Homo sapiens: one gene and its partners. The protein of the gene in region 2 interacts with the protein of the main gene of each other region in a pairwise test. Each region holds a gene or a part of one and is shown on either strand. Other genes may lie near its edges.

What was found.
Region 1: the proteins of IL32 (region 2) and MEP1B interact in a protein complementation assay, tested with the Homo sapiens proteins (one study listed by IntAct).
Region 3: the proteins of IL32 (region 2) and NQO2 interact in a two-hybrid assay, tested with the Homo sapiens proteins (one study listed by BioGRID).

Annotation. Positions count from the first base shown.
Region 1 is NC_000018.10:32,214,017-32,220,906, reverse strand, and holds the end of MEP1B (meprin A subunit beta isoform 1 precursor), read right to left. Parts: intron 5,826-6,890; coding exon 5,646-5,825; intron 3,917-5,645; coding exon 3,790-3,916; intron 3,147-3,789; coding exon 2,942-3,146; intron 677-2,941; coding exon 662-676; 3' UTR 503-661; downstream 1-502. UniProt on the Homo sapiens protein: Membrane metallopeptidase that sheds many membrane-bound proteins. Exhibits a strong preference for acidic amino acids at the P1' position. Known substrates include: FGF19, VGFA, IL1B, IL18, procollagen I and III, E-cadherin, KLK7, gastrin, ADAM10, tenascin-C.
Region 2 is NC_000016.10:3,061,486-3,068,645, reverse strand, and holds the start of IL32 (interleukin-32), read right to left. Parts: upstream 3,007-7,160; 5' UTR 2,959-3,006; exon of another isoform or gene 2,863-2,958; 5' UTR 2,835-2,862; coding exon 2,820-2,834; intron 1,270-2,819; coding exon 1,231-1,269; coding exon of another isoform or gene 1,093-1,230; coding exon 1,033-1,092; intron 663-1,032; coding exon 636-662; intron 467-635; coding exon 407-466; intron 1-406.
Region 3 is NC_000006.12:2,995,563-3,002,895, reverse strand, and holds the start of NQO2 (ribosyldihydronicotinamide dehydrogenase [quinone]), read right to left. Parts: upstream 3,003-7,333; 5' UTR 2,811-3,002; exon of another isoform or gene 2,529-2,810; intron 847-2,528; exon of another isoform or gene 610-846; intron 1-609. UniProt on the Homo sapiens protein: The enzyme apparently serves as a quinone reductase in connection with conjugation reactions of hydroquinones involved in detoxification pathways as well as in biosynthetic processes such as the vitamin K-dependent gamma-carboxylation of glutamate residues in prothrombin synthesis.

The DNA.
Region 1 (6,890 bases), on a different chromosome or scaffold from region 2:
TTGAGATCCTCAGTAACCTATTTGAGATCCTCAGTAATTTTTAAAGTGTAAAGATTCCTGAGATCCAAAACTTGGAGACTTGCCACTCAAAGAGTGAAAGGTTTTCTTGCTGATTACAGTCGTATGCTCAAACAAATTCTAAACCAAGCTCATGTACCAAAGGGATTATATAAGAAAACAAGAGTAGCCAGTTTTGGAGAAGAATGTATATTGACAGAGAGTGGGGAGCTGTCTCATTACCCTTCCCAATGCTGGGAAAGGATGGCACTGAAACTGCTGTGATTCTGCATGGATGATCATTCCCATTGGGTGTTTCTAGTGGGTTTCTAAGGAATCACTTGTGAGGACACCACACTTGGCCCCCATATGGAAGGATCAGTAATTTGAAAAGCCATCTCTAACTGTTGCTCTCCCTTTTTTCTAGACAATATTATACTTCCAGAAGAGCCTGAATTGCTTTTCTCTCATTTAAAAGAAGGAAACACAAACAGCATTTCACCAATTTGACTTTGACCAAAATAGTGATTTATAATATTTCCAGCTATTTACAGAAAAATATCCACTTTTAGAAGAATGAGGTGGCTGTAATATCACTTAGGCGAAATCCATGATGAAGAATCCTTTTTAATTTCATTAGCTGGCCATATTGTCGAGTTAATCTTCAAAAAGCATGCTGCTAAAAGGGGAAAGAACAATTGATGATTTAATTTCTAAATTTAAAAACTGCTATTTAAATGAATCATAATAAAATGATCTGGTCTTTAAATGAAGTCCCCATCAGCAGTCTCCTGGCCTCCCTCCTAGCTGGCAATGGCTCCTGCTCCTGGTCTCCATTTCGAGCCCTGGCTTTTCGGGCCCACATTATTCAGATGCTAAAACATTAGGGTGAACACATACATTCGCCTCAGAAAAAAAGGTCATTCTGATTTAAGATCTAAACGACATCTGGGAGATCTGTTACCAGTGAATTAGCTGTAGAAATGCCTAGCCTAAGATAATGTAAGTCAACTGCCTTGTCCTTAGGAATGTGTTTAAATGACCCAGAAACAAAACAGCTCTGTTGTAATATTATGGAGTGTGTGTGTGTGTGTGTGTGCATGTGTGTTTCCACTTACTATCCTTACCATGTCTCTAATACTGTCATGGTTTCCCTGCTTTATTGACTTAGCTTCCTAGCTTCCTTCTTTCTCTTCTCTTTGGTTTTGTCATTTTTCTTTAACTCCTTCCAGTTTTTACTTGCTAAGCAAGTTTATACTTGCTTATAACAGCTGTTACACTACCCATTCATTGTCAGGGAAATATCCTGGCAATCCCATCCACCCAGTTAACTTGTCCCCTCCTGCCCTTCTACTCTTCCACCTTCCATGCACCAACTCCTGGCTCATCCCAATGGCCCAGGAGACCGAACTTGCAGGCACAGCTGCCATCAGGTTGACCTACCAGGCCAAGTATTCACTGATCTTCCCCTTTTATTTTGAGTCATAAAATAAGCTGAAAGTTGTCTTAAAACAAAACAACCTGTTTATATTTTAAATACTTTTCTAATAATTTTGTGAAGTAATTGATCTATTGCCTTATTATTAGCATTAAACATCTTCCTGATGTTGAGGAAATAGGACAACAGCCTACGATAATACAACGATTTGCTTTCAGTTCATTATCATTGTTCATGTTTTGACTGACTTGATACCAGGCTGTCCCCTTTAAAAACTCGTAGCTTTAAATATAGTATGTCTTGAATAATCGTTTTTCTTAAGAAAATGTACTCTTGCTTTAGCCAATTGCAGTATTTTTATTTTTGGAGATATTCTAATTGGGCATTTTTTCTGACTGGCTTCAGTAGCAATTTTCAGAGACTCCAATTGGAATGAAATAGAAATGGAAGAATTTTAGGGCTTCACTTTTAAGTAATGCTCAGATTTTATGCCACTTTCTCTGTGCTTCTTTGAGAGGAATATGAATCTGCATGTAAAACTCTGTACTCTACTGCTGGAGTATGTAGTGGATGCTAGGGAACTGCTGCTTTGTCCTGCCCTTTGAATGAAGGCTGTTATGCAAGAAATGCCCTCCCCCAAAGGCCGTTGCCTTGCCCAATTTTATGCCCCCTCTTTGAGGGCAGCCCCCTTCCAGTGATGGGAGTACAAAGGCCTGGCCCCCTCCCTCGATTCAGGACGTGCCTAAGAGGGAGTCATCCCCACTCCAGAGCTCCCTGAAGGATGGGCTGAGGCCTCAGCTGCAACCACATCACATTCCAACCTCACCCTCTGCCCAGGCCAGCTCCCTCAGCCTATTATACGTGTTCCAGGAGCCCTCCCCAATAAACCTCCTGCGTACAAATATCCATCTCAGAGTCAGCTTCCCAAGGGACCCACTGGAAACAGGATCGTTTCAGGAGTCTATTAGCATTCTAGAGATTTTTTGAGGCAAGACTTTAAATCCTTTACTTGAAAACTTGCCTTAGAATTAGTTATTCCACATGAAGCCAGAATGAACTGGAACCTTCTTTAATGAAAAAGCTTCCCCAAACATGCCTGCATCCCCTTCCTATGGCCTCAGCTCACCACCACTACAAGACCTTTAGAACAAAAACACTTGCAGGCCACCTCTTCCCTTTACCAGGAAGGTTTGAACTTTCAGGCAAAATCAGTTGTGCCTTTCAGGTCACAGACCACCCCACACTCCAGGAAAAAAACCCACACACACAACTGTACACAATGTTGTATACAATTCCAGGAGGATAATGAACCTCCATAAATCCCAGTTTAAGAATCGTTGATTTACAGTGAAAGTAATAGGAACTTTTATAATCTGAAATCAGTTGTCCCAGCATAGGAAACAGAGAGAAGAAGGCAAGAACCAAAGTATATAAAAAATGTCCTAGTTCCTCTCCATAAGATTTCACCAATAGGTTATGAATAATCAAACATCAGCCTCAACTTACATTTTGCGGAGTCAAATTTGGTCGATTTGAGCTCATCCTTTCACGATATTTCTTCCTGGTGCAATAGACACTGACAAGGGTGATGATCAGCATCAAGGCAAACACAGCAACAGTAGATGAAACAGCAATGACTATGGTGTCTCGGGTGGAGCCTCTCTTTTCACACCTTTCTCCCATGTACCACCAGTCTTCCCCTGACTGGCACCTGCATGTTGAGAGCATGACTCAGAGTTATTAGTTGATATCTAACTCCAGAAATCTTCACAGTTAAAGATGTGGATCACCTTTAGTCTATTTGATCACCAATAGGTCATTGCTATATGAAACTATTTTACCCACTCTGGACTGGAGAGAGACTAGCACCTAGAGCACAGGTATAAACAATGGAAAGAAAAAATGGAATTCCTCCTAATCTGATACTAAAACAGTATCTCCAAGTTAGGAAAGGCCGATAGCACAGATAACAGAGAAAGTTTAGTTCTCAGTGTCCCATGCCCGCCACCCTCCAGATTCACATCTTGGCCAAGGGCTCCTCAGAACGTCAGTATCTTCATCTAGAAAATGGAGGCAGCTACACTTAAAATGACTGGACTGTTATGAGGACTTTTTCAGACAATTAGAATATAGAGTTCTATTTTTTTCATAAAAAAATTGTGTTGGCTATCACAAAGATAGTTCTTGAGGTTATCCAAAGCCCCAAAAGGAGAATAAAAAAAAAATTCTATGAATGGCTGTGAGATGAGAATCAACTGATTTCATTCATAAGAACTATTAAGTAATTAATCCTACATTATGGAAATAAAATTTCTAACCAAAGAATGGAGAGATCTCTTTCAAATCATCCTTACCTGCACTCAGCTTTGCCATCTCGAACAGTGCAGACACCGTCATTTTTACAGGTGGTTTTTGAGCAGAGGTCTTGAACACTAGGGGCTGGTGTTAGCTGGATTTGTGTAGAGTTGAGGTGAGATATGTCTAGGAAGATGGGGAAGAGTGTGGATGGAAATCAGCTTTTGTTTAACAATCATTTGATCTTTAATTTTCATTTTCTTTTAATGTTTCTTTTTTCCTTTTTTCTTTCTTTCTTTTTTTTTTTTAGAGGTGAGATCTTGCAATGTTGCCCAGGCTGGTCTTTGCTCCCAGGCTCAGACAGCCTTTCCACTCCGGCCTCAGAGTCCTGGGATTATAGGCGTGAGCCATGATGCCAAGCCCAATCTTAAGTTTCAGAATAGACAATGATCAGATTTTAGGCTTGTGAGAAATTCAGGTATCCTTGAAGCACAGTCTAGCAACATTCATAGGCAGCGAGATAAGAACTAGGCAAAGGGAAACTAGGCCAGCCTACTGGGGCTCCAACTCAACCACATGCTGGCCTGGATTCTGGGAGCCCAGAAGGGTACAAGCCACTGATACCAACTTTCAAGAGACAGATAAGGAAACCAAAACTCAGAAATGTAAAGTAATTGAGGGCATTGCCCAAGGTCACAGGTCTCTGGCTTGGTAGAGCAAATTGGTGGAGATTTGGAGCAAGACACCAAGTGCCCTGACAACCAGTGTTACATTCTTTGCAGTATTTGTTATTGCTTCTGGTTGAAATCGCTATGGTCAAAGAGAACTGATGCATACTGATTTTTGTTCTCTGCTACATAAAATATTTTCTCTCTTAACAGAAGTTATTTCTGAATAATCTCTCCAAGAGGTATCATCTAGATTTACTCTAATGGACACTGGAGTCAAAATTTTGTGGGTTTTAATTGCACCACCTTTCATCACAAACAAGAATCTGATTTACTGAGATCCAAGTGGGTCTTTAATAGAAAATGAGTTAAAATCCTACCACATAAAAAATAGAAACCACCAGAATTGCTGCAAAATGTATTTATTGGCTGCCAGGTGTAAGAAATTTAACATTAGTCTAACAAGAGATTAATGTCATTTCTGTCAAGATATATATATATATATATATATATATATATATATATATATATATATATATGCATATATGTATGCATGTATGTACATTTGAAACAGGTAAGATGCAGACGTTTCCAGTCATTTAATTTCATGTGCTTGTGTGATATTTTTATTTCAGGAATCCTAGGGTATAATAGTTCTATTTTAACTTATTTCTTTTCTTTTTTTGAGACGGAGTCTCGCTCTTTGGCCCAGGCTGGAGTGCAGTGGCACGAACTTGGCTCACTGCAAGCTCCGCCTCCCGGGTTCACACCATTCTCCTGCCTCAGCCTCCCGAGTAGCTGGGACTACAGGCGCCCGCCACCACGCCCAGCTAATTTTTTATGTTTTTAGTAGAGACAGGGTTTCACCGTGTTAGCCAGGATGGTCTCGATCTCCTGACCTCGTGATCCACTCGCCTCGGTCTCCCAAAGCGCTGGGATTACAGGCATGAGCCACTGCGCCCGGCCTATTTTAACTTATTTCTAAAGAAATTTCCCAACCTAAAGGTTTCCGCTATAGCTTCATGTGGTGGTCATTAAATTCTTTATTCTGGAATCCTCACTGTTTCAAATTAAATTATTTTCATATTGTTAATAATTCATATTCCTCCCAAACCCCATTCATGCCCATTCCCCCCACATCTCTATATAATACATCTAAAAGTGGAATGCAGAAAGAAAAACAGAAAATAATCAGTGGCCACAACAAAAAAAAACTAGTTTATATAAAACTATTTTTATTGACATACCTTCCACTGTCAGTAGGATATAAACATCATCTCCTTTTATAAAATCTCTGCTTTTCAGCCTTTCGTGGGTTATAAAGGCACTGGTTCCATAGCCCCCACCTCTTCTAAACTGAGTTCCATTAGAGAACAAAGCCACTGTTCCCACTTTAGAAGGCCTGTCCCAGAAATAGTTTCCATTATCTGAAAAAGCAATTTATATTAATGGAGTGTGTTTATCATCATCGTAGCTTTTGGTGGTAGGAAAGAACAGGCAATGTGAAACACAATTAGGCTGGAACTCAAAATAATTAAATGATGCTATTGACCTGTGATGTATTCCCTGGCAAATCACTGGGGCTTGTTCATTTATACTGTCCTAGAGGAAATGAAATTGCCTGGCAGGGAGGACCACACTCTAGAATAAGAGTGGAGAGGTACCAGAAGTTTCCTAGGTACCAGATATTCCTGGGAATATCATATCTTTACTTATTGGCCAGTATAGAAACCCTCCTATCTATTAGAATAATTTAGAATAGGCTTCAAGGCTACTAAGAGAGTCCTTTTACAAAGTTACAGATTGTCCAGTTAAAGCAATATGTTGCTGAGAGAGTTTTTAATATCAGCATAGGATGATTTATCTTATTAACTGAATTATTCACCTAACAGAGCAAAGTGCTTCAGAAGTAGAAGACAACAAGAAGCACTGCTTCTGGGAAAAGATAATGACCTACCCAGCCCTGAGCTGTTTTTAATGTCATTTAGTAAGAAACACTTTAGGAAAAAGTGAAGAAATTCTGAATGTCAAGTCCCTACAATTCCATTGGTGAATATTATTGTTTTCCTATGAGATTAAGTTGGATTTTTTTCTATGTCGATTTGGTCCATGTTTTTCATATATAGAATTCACATTTGGCAAAATTATTCAGCTTGCCATAATTCCATTTTTTCCTTTACTAGGGTCTCAGAAGCAAAGAATTATTAAAATTAGTAGTGTGATCTTTGCTTTCAGTGGGTTGCTTCTTTTTGAGATGGGAAAGATGGGGAATGATGTCATGATTAGCAAGTCCTCTGTAACTTTTTACTAAGAAATTATAATGCATTTTCATACCCTTCCCACCAACACTTGAATGCACCTGCTCAATACCTTCCTTCTGGTCAAAAACTACCCCCATTTCAAACGCTGAATTATTTTTGACAATCCCAGTGACGTGAACAAGGTAGCATGAGTTAGAAGAACCCAACATCTGAGGGCCTCTCCACCGCAGG
Region 2 (7,160 bases):
CCCTGCCCACACCACATCAAGACAGGGCAGGGGTTGGCTGGGCCCGGTGGCTCATGCCTGTAATCTCAGCACTTTGGGAGGCCAAGGCAGACGGAACACAAGGTTAGGAGTTCAAGACCAGCCTGGCAAACATGGTGAAACCTGGTCTCTACTAAAAACACACACAAAAAAAATCAGCCTGGAGTGGTGGCGGGTGCCTGTAGTCCCAACTACTTGTCAGGCTGAGGCAGGAGAATCACTTAAACCCGAGATTTGGAGGTTGCAGTGAGCCAAGATCATGCCACTGCACTCCAGCCTGGGCGACAGAGCGAGACTCTGTCTCAAATAAACAAAAAGAAAGAAAGAAAGAAAAGACAGGGCAGAGGTGAAGGAAGGCAAGGTGCCCAGATGGGTGTGTCATACTCACTGGGTGCTGCTCCTCATAATAAGCCGCCACTGTCTCCAGGTAGCCCTCTTTGAAGTCGTCCTGGGGAGAGGAGGGCACAGGGGGTTCATGCTGCTCCTGCCTGCCCCCTTCCCACTGTGGCCCCCACTGGTCCAGGTGATTCCCAAGGGGACCCGGGGCCCAGACCCAGTGTCCTGTGGAGCCTAAGACCCAGGGACTAAGCTTGGTGGAGGGGGAGGCCACGGCTCACCTCCAGCTCTGCCAGGCTCGACATCACCTGTTAGGAACAAAGCACTCGGTTCCAGGCCCAAGCCTCCTCTGCACCCCACATCAGTCAGTCCTCAAGCCCAGTGAGTCCTCAGCTCCCACACACCCCGAACTGGGCCCAGCCAGGGGCCCGGGCCACGTCTGGCACCCCTGTTGTTTCCTCAAGGAGCCCTGGGGCTTGGATGCCTCCCTCAGTCTCCCCGGGCGTCCAGATCCCCCACCCGCCCACTCACTGCCACCCAGGTGCAAGCATTTGCCCACGGTAAGGGGTGAGGGAGCCTGTGGGTCCCTCTTCATCCTTCTCACCCTGAGCCCCACACAGGGTGGAGTGCCTGGGGGCGGGGACATGTGACCTGGTGCCTGAGGGGAAATCCACCCACCTGTCCACGTCCTGATTCTGCATTTTGCATTTTATCATAAAATCTTTCTATGGCCTGGTGCTGTGAAGAGAGGCAGAGTTGGCACCAAAGGGCCGGATCCTTGTCCCTCCAGGGTCCCAGGTGTCCCACAGTGTCCTCAGTGTCACACGCTGAGACCCAGGCCCCCAACCCCTGAGCAGAAGTAGGGAGGAGCATTACCATTCGGGCCTTCAGCTTCTTCATGTCATCAGAGAGGACCTGCGGAAATAACGGTGACACTCAGTCTCCATGTGTCACCTTAACCTTTCCTCCAGGATAATTTATACACACACACACACACACACACACACACACACACACACAGAGACACATGGCAGAGGTACAGGATAAGAGGAGACAGCAGTCCCAGGAGCCCCTCACAGCCTGGAAAGACCGGCCAGGGCTGTCCTCGAAACGACTCAGAAAGCGCTTCTCTCAGGAGCCGGCTCAGCTGGGCAGGCCCAAGAGCAGGGCCAGCATGGGCCTAGGTGACCCCTCCTCACAAGAGCAGGGCCTGCGTGGGCCTAGGTGACCCCTCCTCACAAGAGCAGGGCCTGCGTGGGCCTAGGTGACCCCTCCTCACAAGAGCAGGGCCTGCGTGGGCCTAGGTGACCCCTCCTCACAAGAGCAGGGCCTGCGTGGGCCTAGGTGACCCCTCCTCACAAGAGCAGGGCCTGCGTGGGCCGGGGTGTCCTCCCTGCACACACACACCCCCCCATGTACACACACGGGAGGATGGACACTGTCCTGGAGCAGGCTGGCTCAGCTGGGTTTCCCACAACCACTATGGTCCCAGGTGAGAGTTGGCCAAGGAAAAAATGTTTAGGGACATGACAATTGAGAAGGTAACAGCAGCCATTCCTCTCTGATGAGCTGATTAATATTTGGGGTGCCAGGTAGGTCCACCCTACAACCTGCCACTCTTCCCGACTGCCAACATGCAGACCCACAGGTCCCGGGCCATTCCTGCCTGCAGACACGTGGCTGCATCCACAGAGGCCAGAGGCACCCCACAGAATCCCCGCTGAGCCCCCACGTCAAGGGCCTAGTCTCGGGGGTGACATGCCTGGTTTCCCCCACTATAGAGTGGTGACAGTCACCCACAGAGTGCGCAGGGCCTGGGGACATATTCTGGGCAGGGCAGCTGTCTGCACACTTTCAGGCAGCGATGGTCCCATCCCGCTAGCCTGATTTCCCAGGAACCAGGGTGAAAGCAGCACCGTGCCGACATGCGGGAGCCATGTGTCCTCCGGGTCACTGTCCTGAACCTGAGCCAGGCCACATCATGGAAACCCCTATTGTCACAGGCCGAAGAGCTCCCTGGAGGGTGTGGTGGGCCTAGCATTTGCGGTGGGGCAGTGGTAGAGGATGGGAGGTCGGAGGGAACCCAGGAAAGGAGGAAGAGACACCAGGACCCACACAGGCCTTGCTCTTGGGCCCACCCAGCTGAGCCGGCCTCTGAGAGAAGCATTCTCCGAGTCGTTTCCAGCAGAGCCCTGCCCCACCCCTGCCCCGGGCTTTCCGGGCTGTGAAGGGCTCCTGGGACAGGTGCTCCCTCTCATCCACACCCCTGCCGTTCTCCAGCGCCCCCGACACATATGACCTCCAGCGCCTCCACTGACACTCTCACCCCATCACTATCCTCCTGCCGCTGGGTGCCCCTGACTGAGCCCTGACACACAGGCACCTCGGGAAATACTGAGGGCACCCGCACCCTTACGGTCTGTTTTCAGACATGCCCACAAAAGCACACGCAGCCTCTCACTCACCTTCGGGAAGCACATGGCGGCCAAAAGTTCAAGGAGCCAAGGCCTGCTGGCGAGGAACAGGTGTGAGGAAAAGAAAGTGTCTCAGAGAAGCACCCTCCTCCCCAGAGGGTCCTCACCTTCGGGGACCCCAACTCCCCACCTGAGATGACCCAGCTCCACTGAGACAGTCACCTTCTGCACGCAGTCTTCCTGGCACAAATACTCAGCTGGTTTTATGGGGAAAGTGGGGGGTAGTGGGCGGAGCCTCTCTCAGGGCAGGAGGCCTTGCTGAGTGCGTGAAAAACAGACAGAGACAGAGACAGAGACAGAGACAGACAGAGATGGAGACTTACCCGAGAGAGACAGAGGTCTGGGGTCCCTGGGAGGAATGAGGGTCCGTCCCTGGCTGGGCCCCTGCTCCCTCTGAGCTGGGGTGGGAGTCTCTGAGCCCAGGAATGGGCTGCTTTCCCCACCCCACCAGCCTGAGAGTGGGGAGGGGCAGAGGGAAAGTCCAGACTCGGGACAGCTGGCTGGGGAAACTCCCTGAGTACAGGAAGGTGACGTCAGCCAAGTGGGATCCAAGGACAAAGGAATTTGGACCCTGTCCTTGCATGAGGTGTGCCCCGGCTCCAGAGGCCAGAGAAACTTCTGGATCAGAAGGAGGCAGGAACTGCCGGACCTAAGAGGGGCGCCGTGAGGGCAGGGGCCTGTGCACGTTGGAGGGGTGGCTAGTGGTGATGTAGATCTACCTGTGGGACAAGATAGGACCCTCTGCAGGGTGGAAGGCATCCTGCCGGCTGTCTGAGCTTGGCTGACCAGGTCCTTCTGACCCTTCTGGGCCAAGGCAAGGCCATCTGGGGCCGAAGGTCACTGGTCTCAGCAATCTTGGGGCTCCCCTACGGGCTCTTCTAGCTCCACGGGTTCTGACCCTCCAGCCTGGCTGGGCCTCCCACCTCCTCCTCACGGCCCCCAGCCCCCTTCCCCCAGCTGAGCACAACCACGCCCTTGCCTTTGGGATGGTTTCCTGGGGCCAAACTAAGGAAGTACCACGACAAGGGGCCCTAAGTCGAAGACGTCTCTTCCCTCACGATCTGCAGGCTGGAGGTCCAAGGTCAATGTGGGCAGCGTGGGGTCCTTCTGAGGGCCCGGAGCTGGGATTCTGTTCAGGTTTCTCCTGCCCTTGTAGATGGCCATCTTCATCTTCATCACGTTCTGCCTGGGTGTGACTGTCCCCCTTTCCCCTTTCCAAAGGACACCAGTCATATTGAAATAGGGTCCACCCTAGGCCGGGCGCAGTGGGTCACGCCTGTAATCCCAACACTTTGGGAGGCCGAGGCGGGCAGATCACCTAAGGTCAGGAGTTCTAGACCAGCCTGGCCAACATGGTGAAACCTTGTCTCTACTAAAAATACAAAAATTAGCCTTGCGTGGTGGCCGGCACCTGTATTCCCAGCTACTCGGGAGGCTGAGGCAGGAGAATCACTTGAACCCGGGAGGCGAATGTTGCAGTGAGCTGAGATGGTGCCACTGCACTCCAGTCTGGGGGACAACAATGAAAATTCCCCTCGGAAAAAAAAAAAAAAGAAGTAGGATCCACCCCAGTGACCTCATTGTACCTTAAGTACCTCCATAAAGACCCTGTTTCCAAATAAGGGCATATTCTGAGGTCCTGGGGCTTAGGAATTCAGCATGGATGCAATGTATCCCATTATATTCTCAAAGGGGACTCGGAGAGACAGAACCTATAAAACACGCTCCATGGAGAAATCTTCCCTTGGGTGAAGTAGACAACGGTTGTCACCTGCCTGCCACTTAGGAGTCCATTCCACTGTGCGCAACCGCCTTTCCACATACAGGATGTCCAGATCTTTCCCTGAGTATCCTCTGAATTGTAGTGGGAGACAGAAGGAAGCCACTCCTGCACCAGCTAAAAGTCATGCTTTAGGCTTCAGCTCCAACCCTAGCCCCTCATGACTCTCAAAGGCCACCATCTGAAGACATCTTGGGATCCACCCAGACTGTATGTACCCTGTTTTTATAGCTTTATGGTGATGCAATTTACAGGCAATGCAATTCACTCATTGAGCTGTACAATTCAAAGCACAGAACTGTGCAGCTATCACCACAACCCATTTTAGAACATTTTTATCACCTCTAAGAGAAATTCTGCCCTTCTGAGACATCACTGCCAGTCCTCATTTCCCTGGATAACCACTCATCTACTTTTTCTTTTTCTTTTTTTTTCTTAGAGTCTCGCTCTGTTGTCTAGGCTGAAGGGCAGTGGCACGATCTCGGCTCACTGCAACCTCTGCCTCCTGGGTTCAAGCAATTCTCCTGACTCAGCCTCCCGAGTAGCTGGGATTACAGGCACGTGCCACCACACCCAGCTAATTTTTGTATTTTTAGTAGAGACGGGGTTTCACCATGTTGATGAAGGAGTCTCGAACTCCTGACCTCAAGTGATCTGCCCGCCTTGGCCTCCCAAAGTGCTGGGATTACAGGCATGAGCCACTGTGTCTGGCCTCATCTACTTTCTCTCTCAATGGATGCCTCTCTCCCAGACATTTCCTATAAGTAGAATTATACACTAGGTGATCTTCTGTGTCTAGCTTCTTTCACTGAACATGCTATTCTTGAGGTTCATCCGTGTTGTAACACGCATTATTCCTTCATTCCTTTTTCTGGCTGAATAATATTCTACTGTGTGGATAGACCACATTTGGTTTCTCCATTCACCCCTCGAAGGACATTTGGGTTCTTTCCACTTTTTGGCTAATTCCGAATAATGCTGCTATGAACATTCACGTACAAGTTTCTGTGCAGACGTATGTTTTCACTTCATATGTATGAAGCAGAAGAATAGCTGGGTTACATGGTAAATGTGTTTTTATCCTTTTGAGGAACAGCCAGACTATTTTTCAAAATGTCTGTCATTTTACATTCCCAGCAGCAGTGTGCGAGGGTTCCCGTGTCTCTACAACCTCAGCAATACTTGTTATTCTCTGTGTCTTTTCAATTCCAGCCATCCCAATGGGCTGAAATGGTATCACGTGACAATTTTTTTTTTTTTTTTTTTTGAGGTGGAGTCTTGTTCTGCCACTCAGCCTGGCCTAATTTCTGTATTTTTAGGAGAGATGGGATTTCACCATGTTGGCCAAGGAGTCTCGAACTCCTGACCTCAAGTGATCTGCCCGCCTTGGCCTCCCAAAATGCTGAGATTACTGGCATGAGCCACTGCGTCTGGGCTTATCTACTTTCTCTCTCAATGGATGCATCTCTCCCAGAGATTTCTTATAAGTAGAATTATACACTACGTGATCTTCTGTGTCTAGCTTCTTTCACGGAACATGCTGTTCTTGAGGTTCATCTGTGTTGTAACACGGATCAGTCCTTCATTCCTTCTTCTGGCTGAATGATATTCTACTGTGTGGATAGACCACATTTGGTTTCTCCATTCACCCCTCAAAGGAAGTTGGGGTTCTTTCCCCTTTTTTGCTATTCTGAATAACGCTGCTGTGAACATTCACGCAAAAGTTTCTGTGCAGACTTATGTTTTCACTTCTCTTGGATACGTATGAAGGAGAAGAATAGCTGGGTTACATGGCAAATGTGTTTTTATCCTTCTGAGGAACAGCCAGACTATGTTTCAAATTGTCTGTCATTTTACATTCCCAGCAGCAGTGCCCGGGGGTTCCTGTTTCTCCACATCCCCAGATACATTTGTTATGCTCTGTGTCTTTTTAATTCTAGCCATCTTAGTGCGCTGAAATGGTACCATGTGACAATTTTTGTGTTTCTTTTTTTTTTTTATTTGATGCAATCTCGCTTGGTCTCCCAGGCTGGTGTGCAGAGGCACGATCTCGGCTCACTGCAACCTCCAACTTCTGGGTTCAAGCGATTTTCCTGCCTCAGCCTCTCAAGTAGCTGGGATTACAGGCATGCGCCACCACGCCTGGCTAATTTTTGTATTTTTAGTAGAGACAGGGTTTCACCATGTTGGCCAGTTGGTCTAAAACTCTCAAACTCAAGTGACATCTGCCTCTCAAACGTCTGCATCAGCCTCCCGAAATGCGGGATTACAGGCATAAGCAACCGTGCCCAGCCAATTTTATTTTTATTTTTATTTTTTTGAGACACACCTGTTGCCCAGGGTGGAGTGCAGTGGCGTGATCATGGCTCATTGTTGCCAAGACTTCCCGGCTTCAGGTGATTCTCTCCTCTTCGCCTTCCAAGTAGCTGGGAATACAGACACGGGTTGCCACCATGCCCGGCTAATTTTTTGATTATTTTGTAGAGACAAGGTCTCACTATGTTGCCCAGGCTGGTCTTGAAACCCTGCGATCAAGCCATCCTCCCACTTTG
Region 3 (7,333 bases), on a different chromosome or scaffold from region 2:
TGTAATCCCAGCTACTCAGGGGGCTGAGATTAGAGGATTGCTCCACTCCAGACTGGGTGACAGAGTTAGGCTCTGTTTCAAGAAAAAAGAGAAAGTAAAAGAAAAAAAAGAAAGCCTGTTTGGCTGAACTGTGGTTCAAAAAAAAAAAGAGTGGATGGTGGTAGATGCAGTCAGGGAGGTGGGAGGGGTCTGACCTGACCCCTCCTAGGGTAGGGGTGAGGATTTTATTCTAAGCCTGACAGAAAGCCCTTGGAGCCTCTTAAGCTGGAGAGTAATATGGAATGATCGCCAGTTGTGGTGGCTCACACCTGTAATCCCAGCATTTTGGGGGGCCGAGGTGGGGGGATCACCTGAGGTCAGGAGTTTGAAACCAGCCTGGTCAATGTGGCAAAACACCATCTCTACTAAAAAATACAAAAATTATCCGGGTATGGTGGCATGTGCCTGTAGTCCCAGCTACTTGGGAGGCTGAGGCAGGAGAATCACTTGAACCTGGGAGGTGGAGGTTGCAGTGAGTCAAGATTGTGCCATTGCACTCCAGCCTGGGCAACAGAGCAAGACTCTGTCTCAAAAAAGAAAAAGAAAATAGAGTGATATGAAATGATTTACCTTTGTAAATGTTGCCAGTGTTTCTGCAGACTGGGGGAACACCTTATCCTGATTCCCAAAGTGATTGCCCGAAATCATGTTGTTTGTATGAAATGCTTCATTTTCACTCCTCTAGACAGGGCATCCATTCTTCAGTGTCCCCAGCTCACCACTCCCTTTTGTATTCCTTGGCCCAGTTTACATGTTTACATCATATGGCTGGTGGCATGTGAGTTTGTGACTTCTGTCTCCATCCCCCTAGCGGTTAAGAATAAGAATCTGAGGTCCAAGAGCTGAGTGACTAACTCAGCTCTATTTGAGTGACTCAGCTCTATTTTCTATACTATTTGAAATAGTGGGGAAAGACTCCAACACAGGCTCTTGACTTGCAGTTGTGTCACTGTTCACTTGACCCCAGGCACTTCCCTTGGCACCCCATCCACAGCAGTGACAGTTCTCTCCCTTTTTAGAAACTATGCACCTACCCAGGCCTACAGGAAAAAAGAGCCATGTGGTTATTAAACTGTATATACCAGGTCAAGTGGGCTCTGATATTTTTGACGTGTACATTATTTAATTTTAAGAAGTTATTTTATAATGTTTTCACTTTTTTTCCTGTGCCTCTTTCCATGTGGACAGTCCCCGTGCTGGGCATTCTAACAGACAACATCTCACAGTGTATTCAGTGTGTATTCATGCGGCAGCTAAACCATTGCCTGCATACCCTTTTGTGCCCATTTTCCTATTTCTGGGACCTTAGGTTATTTCCATTTTTTTCCCAAAACTATAAACAGCACAGCTAGAAGTATATATTATTTAATACTTGTTCCTTTTCATGTATTTCTTTGGCTGTGATCTTCGGAGATTAAAGGTTAAACTGATTTATTTTTTCAGAGATTAAAGGTTAAAGAAGCTGATTTTTGGCCGGGCGCAGTGGTTCATTAATCCCAGCACTCTGGGAGGCCGAGGCAGGCGGATCACCTGAGGTCAGGAGTTTGAGACCAGCCTGACTAATATGGTGAAACTCCATTTCTACTAAAAATACCAAAAATTAGCTGGGTGTAGTGGCACGCACCTGTAATCCCAGCTACTCGGGAGACTGAGGCAGGAGAATAGCTTGAACCCGGGAGGCAGAGGTTGCAGTGAGCTGAGATTGTGCCATTGCACTCCAGCTTGGGCAATAAGAGTGAAACTCCATCTCAAAAAAAAAAAAAAAAGAAAAAGAAAGGAAGAAGAATGAGTTCAAGACCAGCCTGGCCAATATGGTGAAACTCCCACCTGTACTAAAAATACAAAAATTAGCCGGGCATGGTGGCAGGCGCCTGTAATCCCAGCTACTCAAGGGGCTGAGGGGGGAGAATCGCTTGAACCTGGAAGGCAGAGGTTGCAGTGAGCTGAGATTGCCCCACTGCACTCCAGCCTGGGCAACAGAGTGAGACTCTTCTAAAAAAAAAAGAAAAAAGAAAAAGAGGGCCGGGAGCAGTGGCTCACGCCTGCAATCCCAGCACTTTGGGAGGCCCAGGCGGGCGGATCACGAGGTCAGGAGTTTGAGACCAGCCTGACCAACATGAAACCCGTCTCTACTAAACATACAAAAAATTAGCCAGGCGTGGTGGCACGCCCCTATAATCCCAGGTACTCGGGAGGCTGAGGCAGGAGAATTGCTTGAACCCGGGAGGCGGAGGTTGCAGTGAGCCGAAATCGTGCCACTGCACTCCAGCCTGGGCGACAGAGTGAGACTCCGTCTCGGGGAAAAAAAAAAAAGCTGATTTTTTTTTTTCCCAGAGAGATTATAGGTTAGAGAAGCTGATTTTTCATTTTTTCCACAGTGCCACAATGTCCTTGACAAAGGCAGCGCAAACCAGTGGTTCAGCCGCGCCTTCAGGGCAGCGCTGGGCAGCGCACGGGCCTAAACCCCGGTACCCCCTTTACAGACTGACCTTGGGCCCGCTGATTCCTACTTGTAATATGACTATGATACCAGCACCCGCTCCATAGGGTTGAGGGCAGATTCCACCAGACGATTCGACACCGGGACCCTGCGTGTGGGCGCGTTCCGTGAGAGCCAAGCACGATCCTATGTACAGAATGGTCCCTGGCCCGGGCGCGACGACCCACAGGGCCATATGGCCGGCCAGCTGAAATCCCTGAGAGCGTTCTGGCCGTCCAGTCCGGGAACTGTCCTTCCCAAGTCCCCCGGTCCCCGACAGGGGATCACTCACCTTCCGACCAGCGCACTCCCCAGTAGGAGCCGCAGGACTGGGACCCGCGTCTCCCCAAGGACCGCTCTAGGAGTTGCGCCAGGTTCCGGCCGCACTGGACCGCGCACTCGCTGACGCCTGGAGGGCGGGAGCGCTGCGACTGCGCCCCCGGGGACCACGGACCGGTGCCAACCTAAGCAGCCCGGAACCTGCCCCGCGCCGCGGGACTGCAGGCCTCTTTACGCAGCGCGCCTACCACGCCGAGGCCCCGCCCACTCACCCGCCCCGCCCGTGAGCCCCGCCCACACCCCGCCCCGCCCCCGAGCCCCGCCCACTCCCCGCCCCGGCGGTGCGGTGCCTCGCTCCGCGCCCGTCCGCGCCCAGGCCCCGCCTCCACAGCGGCGTCCCGCCCCACCCACACCTCGCCTCGGCCCCTAAGCTCCGCCCACTCCCCGCCCCTGAGGTCCATCTGGGGCCTCGCCCGGCGATCTGGGACTGGGGAGGACCCTGCTGACTTCCAGGCAGGTGGAAACTGGATTGATAGAAATCCAGCGCGGGGAGGCTGTGCTGAGAGGAGGGACGCCCCTGCCCTGCGCCTCCCGCTCCCCATCTCTGGCTGGTATCCCGGTTACAGAATGAGGGTCCGTGGTGCAACAGAAAGAATGAGCCACTGATACACTCATCAGCTTGCTCGGATCTCCCGGGGAGTTACGCTGGTGAGAGAAACCAGTCCCAAAGGTCACTCACCGACGGCGCCGCTGGTGTACTGGTATTATGCAAGATGCCCTCGCAAAGGTCACGCACGGATGGTTCATTTATCCAAAGACCAAAGGAGAGAAATGCAGGACTCATTAGCAGTGCCCAGGAGATAGGGGGGCGGGTGGGTGTGGCTATAAAAACGCAACCCGGGGGGTGCCTGTGAAGGAAATCTGCGTCCCGCGGAACGCAACACGCTGTTGGGATACTGGATTGTCCTTTGTGAGATGCCACTATCGGGGGAAACCGGATGGCTTCACAGAAAAAGTTCGTTTAAAGGAAAATGGTTTAAGGCCAAGGAAATACCTAGAAAACGGAAAGTCTTGAAACCAGAGCCGGTGGGGAGTTATGGGGGGCGGTGCTGGTGAACAGTTTGGGCCGACTTTTTCCAGCGCTTGCTGGCTTCTGCCACCTCATTTGGCAGTCACCTGCCACTGTGACCTCCCCAAGTCCCTTCTCCAAACTCAATTCCTTGATTTCTGGTGTCCCGGGATGGCCCCACTCCAACAATAGAGCAGAAGGAAGGAAGGTTTCCCCTGTGTTTAGAACGTTCCTAACGAAAATAACTGCAACTCTTGATTGTACCTCCTGAGGGTCGTTGGGACTTTCCCTCTCAGACATTTATTGGTTCATTCATTCGTTCATTTTGCTGTAACTCACAGTGGCCCTCCCCATCCTAAGGTGCACTGCTGGGATTGGTCTATGTGCTGATGATGTTCTCCTTGTCTTCAGAGGTGAGAATGTGCCCTCCCTCCGAGATGCCCTCTTGCCCCTGAGCTCCCCAGCAGGGAATAGGCTGCCTTGTCTTGTGAGTCCAGATCCTGGGAACAACTTTCATTTAGGAATGGAACAGCAGGTCCTGGGAGCATTGGCGCCTGCGCGCCCATCATGCGCGTGTGTGATGCAACATCACCACCTTGTGGCAGCGAGGAGCTATCACAACGTGGACTGAGCAAGTTGCTCCCTGCTTGGGGTTGGGAGCTGGACTGGCCTAGTTCCCTGGGTCTTTTGTAACCTGAATGGTGGTAGATTCCAGGACAGTTCAGTAGGAGCCCATCCTCAAAAGGAAAATAACAGAACTTCCTGCTAATCTGGTATTGGGGCTGAGCAATTACTGCACACTAATGAGATTGACCATAATTGCATCCTGAGTTTGAGGAGGAGGTCATGCTACTAAAATGAGATAAAATCAGCTCCAACGACAAACATCATCTCTGGGGGTTTCCAGATTCTCACTTTTCATTTAATCCCCAGCCTTAGTGGAAAGCAAGAGTCGGAGTCGGCATTCTGGGCAGGGAGGCAGGTGAGGCAGGTACACATCTCCTCTTCTCCCCAACGCCCCATGTTTCTATTTCTGAATAAAATGAACCATCATGGTGCTAAGGTAAAGCTAAACTAGCTGAGCCACCTCCTGAAGAGGTCATTGCTTTTGTTTTTATTTAATGAGATTTCTTTCCCTTCTGCTACCAGCATCCCTATTCCTTTGGAAAACTGCTTCTTCATAATAACATAAAGGTTTTGGATTTTTTGTTTTGTTTTTTGGGTAGCAAAATCTGTATAACATGAAATTTTCTATTTTCACCATTTTAAGTGTACAATTCAGTGGCATAAATTACCTTTAGAGTGCTGTGCAACCATTACAACTATTTATTTTCAAAACGTTTTCATCATCCCAAATAGAAACACTTGGGTCAGGGGCCATAGATCACGCCTGTAATCCCAGCACTTTGGGAGGCAGAGGCATGCAGATCACCTGAGGTCAAAAGTTTGAGACCAGCCTGGCCAACATGGCGAAACCCCATCTCTACAAAAATTTGCCAGGTGGTGTACACCTGTAATCCCAGCTACTCAGAGGCTGAGGCAGGAGAATTGCTTGAACCCAGGAGGCGGAGGCTGCAGTGAGCTGAGATCGTGGCACTGCACTCCAGCCTGGATGACAGAGCGAGACCCTGTCTCAAACAAAAACAAAAACAAATAGAAACACTGCACTCATTGGATAATAAATCCCCATTCTCCCCTCCTTCCACTCCTGGTAGCCTCTAATCTACTTTCTGTCTCCATGAATTTGTCTATTGCATGTATTTCATATAAGTGGAATCCTACAAGATGTGGCCTTTTCACTAAGCTTTTTTTCCTCAAAAACCTTGTTGCTGAGTTTCATCCATGTTGTAGTATGCATCAGAACTTCATTCCTTTTTATGGCCGAATAATAGAAAAATGTGTATACCGCCTGGCCAACGTGGGGAAACCCCATCTCTACTAAAAACACAAAAATTAGCTGGGCATGGTGGTGTGCACCTGTAGTCCCAGCTACTCGGGAGGCTGAGGCAGGAGAATCACTTGAACCCAGGAGGCAGAGGTGGCGGTGAGCTGAGATTGTGTCATTGCACTCAAGCCTGGGCAACAAGAGCAAGACTGACAGAAAGAAAAGAAAGAAGAAAGAGAGAAAGAAAAAGAAAGGAAGGAAGGAAGGAAGGAAGGAAGGAAGGAAGGAAGGAAGGAAGGAAGGAAGGAAGGAAGGGTACCAGGCATTGTTTATCCACTCATCTGTTGTTTGACTATTGTGAATAATATTGCAATGATTATTGGTGTACAAGTATCTGTTTCAGTCCCTGTGTTCAATAATTTTGGTTATACACCTTGGAGTGGAATTGTCGGTATTACAATTCTATGGTCATTCTATGTTTAGCTTTCTGAGGAACAGCCAAACTGTTTTCCACAGCGTCTACACCATTTCACATTTTCACCAACAATGTACACAGGTTCCAACTTCTCTACATTCTCACGCACATTTGTTATGTTTCTTTTTTTTCCCTCTAAATTATAGCCATCCTAGCAAGTGCGAAGTGGTATCTCATTGTGGTTTTGATTTGCATTTCCCTAAGGACTAATGACTTTGAGCATCTTTTCATGTGCTTACTGGCCATTTGTATACCTTCCTTGGAGAAATGTCTATTCAAGTCCTTTGTTGACCATTTAATTGGGTTGTTTGTCTATTTGTTGTTGAGTTGTAGGTTTTTTGTTTGTTTTTTGAGACGGAGTTTTGCTCTTGTTGCCCAGGCTGGAGTGCAATGGCGAGATCTCGGCTCACCGCAACCTCCGCCTCCTGGGTTCAAGTGATTCTTATGCCTCAGCCTCCCGAGTAGCTGGGATTACGGGAATACGCCACCACGCCTGGCTAATTTTATATTTTTAGTAGAGACAGGGTTTCTCCATGTTGGTCAGCCTGGTCTCAAACTCCCGACCTTAGGTGATCCGCCCACGTCGGCCTCCCAAAGTGCTGGGATTACAGGCGTGAGCCACCGCACCCGGCCGAGTTGTAGGTGTTCTTTACATATTCTGGATGTTATCAGACATAGGATTTACAAATATTTTCTCCCATTCTGTAGGTTGTCTTTCACTTTCTTGAAAATGTCCTTTGATATAAAAGTTTCACATTTTTTATGAACTCCAATTTACCTATTTTTTGTTGTTTCTTCCTGGGCTTTTAGTGTCTTATCTAAGAACCCAAAACACAAGATCATGAAGATTTACTCTTACGTTTTCCTCTATATGGCTTTAGTTCTTATATTTAGGTTGTGAATTATTTTTCACATATGGTGTGAAGTGGAGCCCAACTTTAGTCTTGCATGTGGAAATCCATTTCTCTCACAGCATATATTAAAGAAACTATTATTTCATCATTGAATGGACTTGGCACTCTTGTCAAAAATTCACTGGCCACAGATGTATGGATTTATTGAGGATCCCTTGTACATCTCTTGCAGCTTTTAAGATTCTCCCTTAGT